2 separate regions of the Homo sapiens genome follow, and region 2 is linked to region 1. Evidence: fine-mapped expression QTL. A gene starts in region 1. The other region holds a variant in brackets. All regions are shown on one strand. Distances are from middle to middle. Region 1 holds the start of CDKAL1 (CDKAL1 threonylcarbamoyladenosine tRNA methylthiotransferase). Region 2 holds the start of LOC107986578 (a long non-coding RNA gene).

What was found.
Region 2: its variant is fine-mapped to the expression of CDKAL1 in CD4 T cells (CEDAR, PIP 0.95). The same link has a PIP of 0.9 or more in B cells and monocytes.

Annotation. Positions count from the first base shown.
Region 1 is chr6:20,532,233-20,537,611 of GRCh38, reverse strand. CDKAL1 (CDKAL1 threonylcarbamoyladenosine tRNA methylthiotransferase) reads right to left here and starts at 3,155. Exons shown (of 16, transcript NM_017774.3): 1 at 3,038-3,155; 2 at 2,218-2,261. RefSeq lists enhancers at 2,957-3,036, 3,067-3,226.
Region 2 is chr6:21,229,942-21,235,320 of GRCh38, reverse strand. CDKAL1 (CDKAL1 threonylcarbamoyladenosine tRNA methylthiotransferase) reads right to left here. Exons shown (of 16, transcript NM_017774.3): 16 at 2,917-4,473. The coding sequence ends at 4,282. It overlaps LOC107986578 (a long non-coding RNA gene), which reads left to right and starts at 4,262. Exons shown (of 2, transcript XR_001744021.2): 1 at 4,262-4,630. RefSeq lists an enhancer at 3,901-5,100. The variant A/G (reference allele first, on the strand shown) is at 2,207.

The DNA of each region.
Region 1 (5,379 bases):
ATTATGAGACAGAGTTTCACTCTTGCTGCCCAGGCTGGAGTGCAATGGCACGATCTCGGCTCACTGCAACCTGTGCCTCCTGGGTTCAAGCAATTCTCCTGCCTCAGCCTCCCGAGTAGCTGGGATTACAGGCACCTGCCACCACGCCCAGCTAATTTTGTATTTTTAGTAGAGACGGGGTTTCACCATGTTGGTCAGGCTGGTCTTGAACTCCCAACCTCAGGTGATCCACCTGCCTTGGCCTCCCAAAGTGCTGGGATTACAGGCGTGAGCCACTGCACCCAGCGGGAAGCTTTTCATCATATCAAATCTCCAGGTTCCATTCTGAATTAGAATCTCCAAGAGTAGAACTGAAGTATGTGAACATAGAAACTGTCCAGGTAATTCCACTATAGATCCCTAATTAAGAACCACGATTCCACAGTAATGGTTCTCAATCTTCAACACTCATTCTATTCACCTGAAGAGCTTTTGAAAATTCCCAACTAAGCTTGCAGTGAGCCGAGATCACGCCACTGCACTCCAGCCTGGGCGACAGAGCGAGACTCTGTCTCAAAACAAAAACAAAAACAAAAGAAAAAAAAGAAAATTCCCAACTAAGCCCCAAGATAGCTGAATGAATCTCTGAGAATGGAGCCTGGGCATCAATATCTTTTAAAAACTTTCCAGTCATTCTCATGTGTGTACAGCCACAGTTGCAAAGCAATGTCCAGTGGTTTTCAAAGTGTAGTTTCCACATCAGCTGGAGTAGCATCATGGGGAACTTGTTAGAAATGAACATTTTTTCTTTTTCAGTTTTTTTGTAAAAACAAGGTCTCGCTTTGTTGTCCAGGCTGGTCTCAAACTCCTCCCATCTTGGCCCCTAAAGTATGGGATTACAGGCATGAGCCACCATGCCCAGCCAGAAATGAAAATTCTTGAACTCCACTCCAGACATACTAAATCAGATATTTTGAGTAAAACCTAGCAATATTTAACAGGCCCTCTAGGTGATTTTGATCTGAATTAAAGTTTGATAATCACTGTCCCAGAATTATTCTTTCATAAAAACCACCTAGAATGTATGTCAAATATACATAACCTAGACAATTCAAGGGGGAAAGCGTAGTTTTTTTTTCAACAAATGACACTGGGATAACTGGATAGCAACATGTAAAAAATAAAGTTGGAGCCCTATTTCACATTTCACATCATATACAAAAATTAACCGAAAATGGATCATAGACCTAAATTTAGGAGCTAACATTATGAAACTCTTAGAAAAAAACATAAGCACAAATCTTTATGATGTTAGAGTAGGCCCTTCTTTCTTAGCTAAGAAATGAAAAGCACAAGCAACAAAAGGAAAAACAGATTAGATGAAGAAGATACAGAAATGGGCCAGGTGCAGAGGCTCATGCCTATAATCCCAACACTGGGAAGCCAAGGTGGCAGGATCACTTCAGGCCAGGAGTACAAGGCCAGAGCCTAGGCAACACGGACCCTATCGCTACAAAAAAAAAAAAAAAAGTAAAATTTAGCCGGGCATGGTGGCATGCACCTGTAGTCCCAGCTACTTGGGAGGCTGAAGTGGGATCACTTGAGACCAGGTGGTCAAGGCTGCAGTGAGCCGTAATCGAGCCACTGCACTCTGGCCTGGGTGGCATAGGGAAGCCGTGTCTCAAAAACACACACATACAAATGGCTGATAAGCACATGAAAAGATGTCAACATCATGAGCCATCAGGGAAATGGAAATCCAAACCACAATAATACACCACTTCATACCCATTAGGATGGGTAGAATCAAAAAGACAAATAACTGTTGACAGGCATGTGGATTACATCACCCAGAGGGGAAGAAAAAGAGAACAGAGGTAGGAGAAGGTACAAGACCACGACTTGAGAGACTCCAAATTTAACTGCCAGATAAAGGAAAATCAGCTTATAATGGATTCCAAGAAGCAGCCACCAGACAAGGAAAAAAATCCATGGGCCATGGAAGGCAAATGAAAAGGGCATCTCAAAAAAGTGGACATGGTCAATGCTGGTGAATGAAAATGAAAGGTTAAGTAAAATAAATGAAAATATCTCTTCGATTTAATGCTATGTAAAGCACAATGTTTCCATAACATGATAGTGGCAAATAGCTAAAACATTAGGCTACCTCTCTGCATTTTCTAACATGCAGAAATACGCACAGCACTCAAACATAAAAGGTTTAAAATAAATCAGTACCTTAATTATCTGCAATTAGTCTAAAGTCCTCTTGAAAGATGAGTCTGGAAAATAAAAATTGATTAGGAAAAGTAAGCACCCAAAAAGTTCACAAAACCACTGTAAGGATTCTTTACTTAAAAGGAATCAGACTCCATAAAAGACTGCTTTATACAGCAGGATTAATGATGCTCCATACTACTTGTAACTTCTTACTGATTACAACAGGTGTGCTGACATCTGCCGTGACGGTGATCCAGTGTCTGGCTTTAGTAATAAATGTTGTATTCAGCACCGCAACACGTCTGCATAGTGCGAGTAACCAACCACTACAAAACAGGATTAAGTCAATAAGGTAGATAGACATCCAGATCACGTTCCATCCGAAAGATAACTGTCGTCCCGAGATTCAGAAAAAGGTTTTATGAGCAAAGAAGAACGAAAAGTGAAAAAGCAAGACACCTGCTTTTCTCAATAACTTCTGCTTAAATTCTTAACATACTGATCTGGGAAAGCTATATAACTGCGAAAGCCTTGTCACATCTACAAATTCACTAAGGTATAAAGTGGGAGAACAAATGAAGTTAAACCTGACAATAAGGAACGAGGTGCCTAAAATACTCCTAACTGGAGAGCGGCACCTGAGGCCAACGACCCTATCCTCGCTCCTGGAAGCCCCATCTGCCTCCCAATTCCCCCATCCCAGCTGGCAAATCCCCTTTTAACTGCGAAACAAATTTGCAAACAGCCCAAGAAAAACTGAAACTGGAGAAACAAGGCTTGGCCATAAAAGGAGCTGTGGCCACACTCTGCCCCACATGGACCCATCGGCCACCCTTACCCAGAAGTCGGGAAGTAAAAACCAGTCCAAAGTGAGAAAATCAACCCGCCACTCTCCGGAAGCTGCACAGACTTTAGATGGAGAGCGCCATGACACATACGTCCCGCCACGTTTATTTGCGCATGCTCAGCGACGGTGGCCCGAAGAGATCAAATTACATCATTGCTGAAAGCGCTAGTTCTGGTTTAACTTAGTTTAGGAATGACTACGCTTCAAGTTCCTTTGATTCCAAGAACTAAAATAACAACCCTGAGTCCTCGGGTTCCTAGAAATGCTTAATAGCCAACTTCTCCTAAGCTTTTATGTGTTAGACACTGTGCTAAGTACTTTGCATAAATATTATTCACTATTTATTTATTATTATTATTATTCCCAGTTTACAAAAGAGGACACTGGAAGTTTAAGGACTTAATCTAAGTTACTCTACTAGTCGTGCTGCGCTCTGGGCTGGATCCGATGCTGTCTGACTCCCAAAGAACTTGCTCTTTTCACTGCATTTTACTAGCCTCCTCAATCATTTGTGAAAAGAGGTCTCTTCTTTAATATTAAAAAAACAGGAAGGAAAGGATAAAGGTCAGTTGGTAGGTTTCACTTAATATACATCATTGAGCACCACACAAGTGTTTTTGTTTTTTGTTTTGGAAAACTTAGATGGCAGTTTAGCAGACACCTATGGAAAGAAAATACTTTTATGGAGTACGGATTCTCACCCGCTTTCTCTACATATGTTATCTCACTTTACTATTCGTTACCCAAGACACTGTATTTGACCATGTGTTTACCAGAAGAATATCTTTACTTGAAAAAGTAAAGGTAATAGGAGGCAATAGGCCATGAAGAAGGGTCAGAAATCGTGAGTTTTATGCCTGACTTAGGGTTTCATAGTGATTTGGGGCAATTACTTTGTTTTGCAAATGCCTTTCCTAGTACAATTTCATCTAATTAAAATGCCATCCATCTACTCAAGAGGCTGATGTGGGAGGATCACTTGAGCTCAGAAGTTTGAAAACAGCCTGGGCAACACAGTGAGACCCAGTCTCTAAAATAGATTTAAAAAAAAAAAAAAAAACCACCCTTTTCTCTGTTTATCCATATCCATAAAATAATCTAAACTGTGCCCTGGGGTCCACTGTTGTCTTTACCCACCTAAATTAAAATTGTGTATTTATGTTGCCCTACTTTTTTTTTTTTTTTTTTTTTTTTTTTAGATAGGGTCTTCTTCTGTCACCCAGGCTGGAGTACAGTGTTACCATCACAGCTCACTGCAACCTCTCCCTCCTAGCCTCAAGAGATTCTCATGCCTTAGCCTCCCAAGTAGCTGGGACTACAGGTGCACACCACCATACCCATCTAATTCCATCTCTTTCACTAGACCAAAAGTAGGCCCTGGGTTATCTTCTTGGTTGTAATCGCACTACCTAGCACATAACCTTGTGCCTATGTTTATAGCTTCTCAATAAACATATGTTGAATGAATGAATGAATGAATGAATGACTCCACCCCTTTTCCCCCAAGATCTAGTTGAGTTCAGTAAAAGATATTTTACTGAGTATGTACCCCATGACCACAAGCACTGTGATAGATGCTAGAGCTAAAAAGAAAGAAAAAAAGTACTGCCTATTGCAATTGCAGGCTATTTTGAAAAAATTCATTTCAGTAGAGAATAGCAATCACTATGAAAGATGAATGCACAGGAACACAAAGGTGAAGTAAGGGAAATGGATGAAGGCATTCCAAGCTGGAGAGTCAGCCAGAGCAAAAGCAAGGAGGCCTGAAATGATGAATTATTCCACAGTGTAAAAGCAAAGAGAGTGAAGCTGGTGATGGGAGAAGTCTACCAGAGAAAGGGAAGCACAGGGACTAGATCAAGGTGAACCTTGTGTATTCAAAGGCATTAGACTTAATCCTGGATGTATGTAGTAGGCAACATGAATGTGTTCGAGCAGATTATTCTCTCAGGACAATGGGTTTGAGGACGATATTTCAGACATGAAGAAATAGTAAAAGCCTAAATTGAGTTGTTGGCTGGGAGGAATGGGAAGGAAGGACAGATTTAAACAAATTGAGGAGGTAACAGCAGCAAGACTTGGTGATTGATAGGTACGAAAAAAGAGGAAGAAAGGATGTTTTCAAGTTTTGGCTACAAAAACTAACTAACAGGTGAAACCTCTCTCTTTAAGCACCTTTAGTCTAAATCCTTTGAAGTCAGTAACCCTACCTCTAGGAATTTATCTTACAGAAATATACATAATGACCTATGTTCCAGAGTATTTTTTGAAGCATTGCTTACAATGACCTATGTTCCAGAGTATTTTTTGAAGCATTGCTTACAATGACCTAT
Region 2 (5,379 bases), 700 kb before region 1:
CAAAGCAAAGTTTTAACCCAAGAATTCTTTACATTCTCAAACTGACTATCTCATGCTGGGATGATAAGAAAGGAAGCAGGGATGATAAGATGAAGCAGGGACAATAGAAAGGAGGGAAAGAAAGAAGGAAGGAAGGAGGGGGCAGGGCAAAGAAAAAAGCTTGATTAGTAAATCTTTATTTAAAAAGTATATCAAGTACCATGCACATTCTTGGAGCAGGACAACACAGACTGAAAGGCTGAAGGCCCCCAAGCTCAGGCATCCACAGGATTGATCCTAAATGTGTATCTGTTGGCACAGGTCAAGTTTAAGTCAAAGATGGGACAGAGGAGCAGGAGGAGTTTACAGAAGAGGAGTATATGCTTTGGAGTCAGGCTGTGTACCAGTCCTGCCTCTAAACTTAAGAGCTCTGTGCCTCTTGCACAAGTTACTTAGTCTTTTGAGTTTTAGATTTTCTTCTCAGTATGATGGGAATCACAATACGTATCTCAAAATTTTTTCTTCAGGACTGATTAACACCTGTTAAGTGCAAAGTATAACATCCAGTGCATTTCATTTAAGGACTAGACAGTTAATGGTTGTCAATATTATCATTACTATTAAAATAGGAATGACTTGTGGAAGGGAGACAGCAGAGACAAGGTCTGCTGAAGAATATCTAAGGTCCAAAGAGAAAAAATAGTGGGAGAATGACAGAATTCATGTCAACTGCTGGTGGGGATGTAAATTGGTACAACCACTTCAGAAAACCATTTAGCAGTATCTAAGCTGAACATATGCAAATGCTATGACCCAGCAATTCCACCCCTAGACATGTACTCCTCACATCATCACATAAACACTTAACAAAACGTGTTTATAGCAGCATTATTCATAATAGACAAAAAATTGGAAAGAACTCAAATGTAGAATGAACAATGTGGTGTACTCATACACTGAAATACTATTCAGCAATGAACGTGAAGTAATTACTGCTCACACAATAATCTGGATGTGTCTCACAATCACTGTAGAACAAAAGAAGGTAGACATGAAATAGTGCATACTACATGATTCCACTTATAGAAAGTTTAGAATCAGGCAAATCAATCTGTAATGTTAGAAATAAGGATACTGGTTACTCCTTGCGGGGCAGACTTAATGGCTAGGAGGGTACATGGGGAGCCTCCTGGTGCTGGCTACAATGCTTGCTCAGTTTTTAAAAATCCCTGTATCCCTATGATTTATGTCCATTTCATATGTATGTTTTATTCTAGTAAAGAGTTTAAGAAAAAAATTGGCCAAAGCATTGAAAAGATCACTTCATAGGTTTCCTTCTCAGCAGAGAAGTACACACACACACACACACACACACACACACACACACACCCCTTGATACTAATGCAAAGCATACAAAAGCATACAAAGAAAACATAACAATTACATTTACAATCTGCGGGTCAAGCATCCTATCACGGCTGACACTTCGTATAAATCAGGTTACGAATGCTACGGCTACGACCCCCAGATGCCGGTGGCTTAACACAACCACAATATATTTCTGGTTCCTGATGCCTATGTAGCACATGCTGGCCAGGAGCCCTACTCAACTGTACTAACTCAGGGACCCAGGGTCGGGGAGGCGTCATTCTGACATATGGGTCCAGGATCACCACAGCAGTGGGAAGAGCACACAGTAAACCGTACACCAGCTCTGAACATGTCTGCCCCGAAGAAGGACGTGACCCTTCCGCTCACATTTCACATTTCGTGCCTAACTTCAGCGGGGCGGGAGAAGCGCAGTTGCACTGTGGGCAGGAAGGAGACAGGCTGGAAAAGTAACAGCTCTACTCATGATCACACTTGCTCCCGTGGTTCCCAGACTCAGCCCCATTCAGAGTCCAGGGCTTAAGAAAACTGTTTTTAACTTGCACTGCATCCTTCTCTGCTCTCTCCCTCCCCCTCCCTAGAGATGGAGGTCACAGGGGGAAGAAAAACCCTGGATTTCCAGAACACTGCTACCCCTCTCACCAATTGGTCGCCAGTATGGAGACTGATTTCATGAAGGTCCAGCGTCTGCTGCGGGCAGTGACCTCGGTCCCTTTCTGGGTCAAACGGCAGAGTGAAGCTGCAGCCAAATTGAGGGTAAATAACAGTCACAGCAGGAAGTAGGGAGAATCCTGTACAGCTGAAACGATCCTTGAGGATCCCTGCCATGGTAGGTGAG[A/G]GCAGCAGGGGGGGAATTTGGATGACTGGGTGTATCATTCTCTTACAGGAAGAAAAAAATGAAAAAAGGCGAGGACAGCATAGAGCTAGAAGGGAGGAAATAAACAGATGAGGGAGTGAGGAAAAGAGTAGGGAAAGAGAAAAGGGAGGTAGAAAAAATCCTTTTTGTCTCCAATCAGTTACAGGTGTAAAGCTTTCTCTATGTCTGATCTAGTGCAACTCTAGGCTTTGGATGGCATTTTTATCTCTGCTAGGTTTTTGTTAAATGAGCACCACACTGGAACCCACTGTTTATTAACAAAGAAATGACTGCGTAGAGCTCAAGAAGGGAGGCACATGGTAGGTTCTTGTCCTCTTCTCATTCCTGCTAAGAAGTGAGGGGTGCTCCCAAGTGGATGTTTCACTGCAGGACTAGAAGCAGCACAGGAGGATTTTTGCATTCTAAATGTGAGCACCTCTTAGAAGCACATACCAGTTCCAGGAGAAATGTACTAACACTAAAAGCATATATATTTTATAATTTACCAACTAGGACATGACTGAATTTTAATTTGGGTTCCTTAAAAGACACACAAAACACAAACATTTTGAGTTAAATGTAAGAGCTGAAGAGGGGTATGGGTTTCGAGATGGAAAATATCCTATGGTAACTACACGGTACCTGGTTTTCCTGTACCTATGCAATCCAAATAAATTCTCAAAAACATAGGATTTGCTTAGTATACCAATTCTATTTATTGTTAAAGAAAGAAGTCACTTCACTTAGTAAAGACCAATGATGGCAGGTAGAAATAAAAACATTTAATCTGGGCTGGGTGGAGTGGCTCACGCCTGTAATCCCAGCACTTTGGGAGGCTGAGGCAAGAAGACTGCTTGAGGCTAGGAGTTCCAGGCAAGCCTGGGCAACATAGTGACACTCATCTCTACAAAAAATTAAAAAATTAGTTGGGCATGGTGGTATATGCCTGTAGCCCCTGGCTATTAGGGAGGCTGAGGTAGGAGGACTGCTTGAGTCCAGGAGGTCAAGGCTGCAGTGAGCCAAGATAGTGCCATTGCACTCCAGCCAGGGTGACAGAGTGAGACCTTGACTCAAAAAAAAAAAAAAACAAAAACAAAAAAAAAACCCCAATGGATCAAAAATGTGAGAAAATGGGCACAATTAGTTTTCGACAAATCCAGTTTTCCAGTTTCATATTTCACAGAATGTTGCCAGGAGTCCTTTAGCTGGCAGACTCTCCCCGTGCATTCCAAAAGCATTCAGGTTCCCAGAACAGGTTTCTATACACTTTTCAGGAACACATCTGCTGTGAAAAATACAATGTTTGTAGCACTGGGACTCCAAACAAAGCCTGAAGGGGAAGATGCACTTAAAAATATTTATTAAAGAGGCCGGGCGCAGTGGCTCACGCCTGTAATCCTAGCACTTTGGGAGGCCGAGGCGGGCGGATCACTTGAGGTCAGGAGTTCGAGACTAGCCTGGCCAACATGGTGAAACTCCGTCTCTACTGAAAACACAAAAAAATTGTCTGGGCTTGGTGGCGCATGCCTGTAATCCCAGCTACTTGGGAGGCTGAGGCAGGAGAATCGTTTGAACCCAGGAGGCAGAGGTTGCAGTGACCTGAGATCGTGCCACTGCACCACTCCAGCCTGGGGGACAAGAGCGAAACTCCATCTGGAAAAAAAAAACAAAGAAAAAGTTTATTAAAGATAGAAAATTCTTCCACATGAGGAAAAGATGGCCAGAGCCACTGTACAATTAGGTTCTGACTTAAAGATTAGAGATTGAAACAAACAGAAAAAAATGCAACCGCTTGCATTTCTTGCTAAAAGTAAACCAAAAGCAGTTTAATTTGAAGGATGTGCTATGGTAGCGGTGATTAGGTTTTAGGTCAAATAACCAATGGGCCCAACTCAATGTGAGACAGGGGGAGCCTCATTAAGAAGAGTGGCTGAGAAGGAGGCAGCATGACCAGTACAAATTATTGCCCTTGGAGAATGGAGATGTCGCTTTCCTGTTCATTGAAGATTTTAATTAGAAATGTATTCTTCTTTATAGATGTTTCCATTAGTTGTATTCTAATTATAGACCTTGACAAAAAAAGCAAAAAGAAGACCCAGCAGAGCCAAGCCCACGGACATCCTCAGCGCACAGTCTTGATGTAGCCTTGGCATGGGCAGCACCATTCTGGAACTCGCTGAGTCACACTGAGATGCAGCAGAGGTGTGGGATCCTGAACTCAGCTGGTTCCCAAGCCCATTTCTGAAGTCCTATAAAGAGAGAAACAGAGGAAAAAATTATTTTTAGATGCAGAGAAAGCCCTGTTGTGATATCAATCAAGCAATGGGTTCCAGAAGGTGCCGCCTTTTATGTACTCCTTCAACAGAGACACGTTTGAACACCCACCATGGGCCAGGTGGCCCCAAGGTAGGTATGAATGAGTCAGTTCCTTTCCTTGAAGGGCCAGGCCAAGTTCATGACTCCAGACTACACATAAACTGTATGAGAAAGACGGGCCGTGTTTATAGAAAATCAAGGCAGAATTCATGAAGGGTAGAATCTGTGTAAAGTGGAGTCATACCACAGACATATTTAACTCTTAGAGAGATGCAACCATATCTTCTCAGCAATGGAAGAATGACAAAGAAACACCATGGGCCAGGTGTGGTGGCTCACGCCTGTAATCCCAGCACTTTGGGAGGCCAAGGCGGGCTGATCACTTGAGGTCAGAGGTTTGAGACCAGCCTGGCCAACATGGTGAAACCCCGTCTCCACTAAAAATATAAAAATTAGCTGGGTGTGGTGGCAGGTGCCGGTAGTCCCAGCTACTCTGGAGGCTGAGGCAGGAGAATTGCTGGAACCTGGAAGGTGAAGGCTACAGTGAGCCAAGATTGCGCTGCTGCACTCCAGCCTGGGCAACAGAGTGAGACCCTGTCTCAAAAACAAACAAACCAACCAACAACCATGGAAGCCATGATTCAGCAAACACATCCCTAGGACAAAGATTCCCAGCTGGTCTGCTGCCACAGGAGGGCTGCGCCAAGAGTGACCCACCCCACATAACCCCACACTCAGTCCCCTCAAAGTACCTTGTGTGCCATACAAATACTATCATCATTTTCTCTTCATGCCAGATAGAGAACAGGTTGGGAAACCCTGCTTGGGCAGAGCTGAGA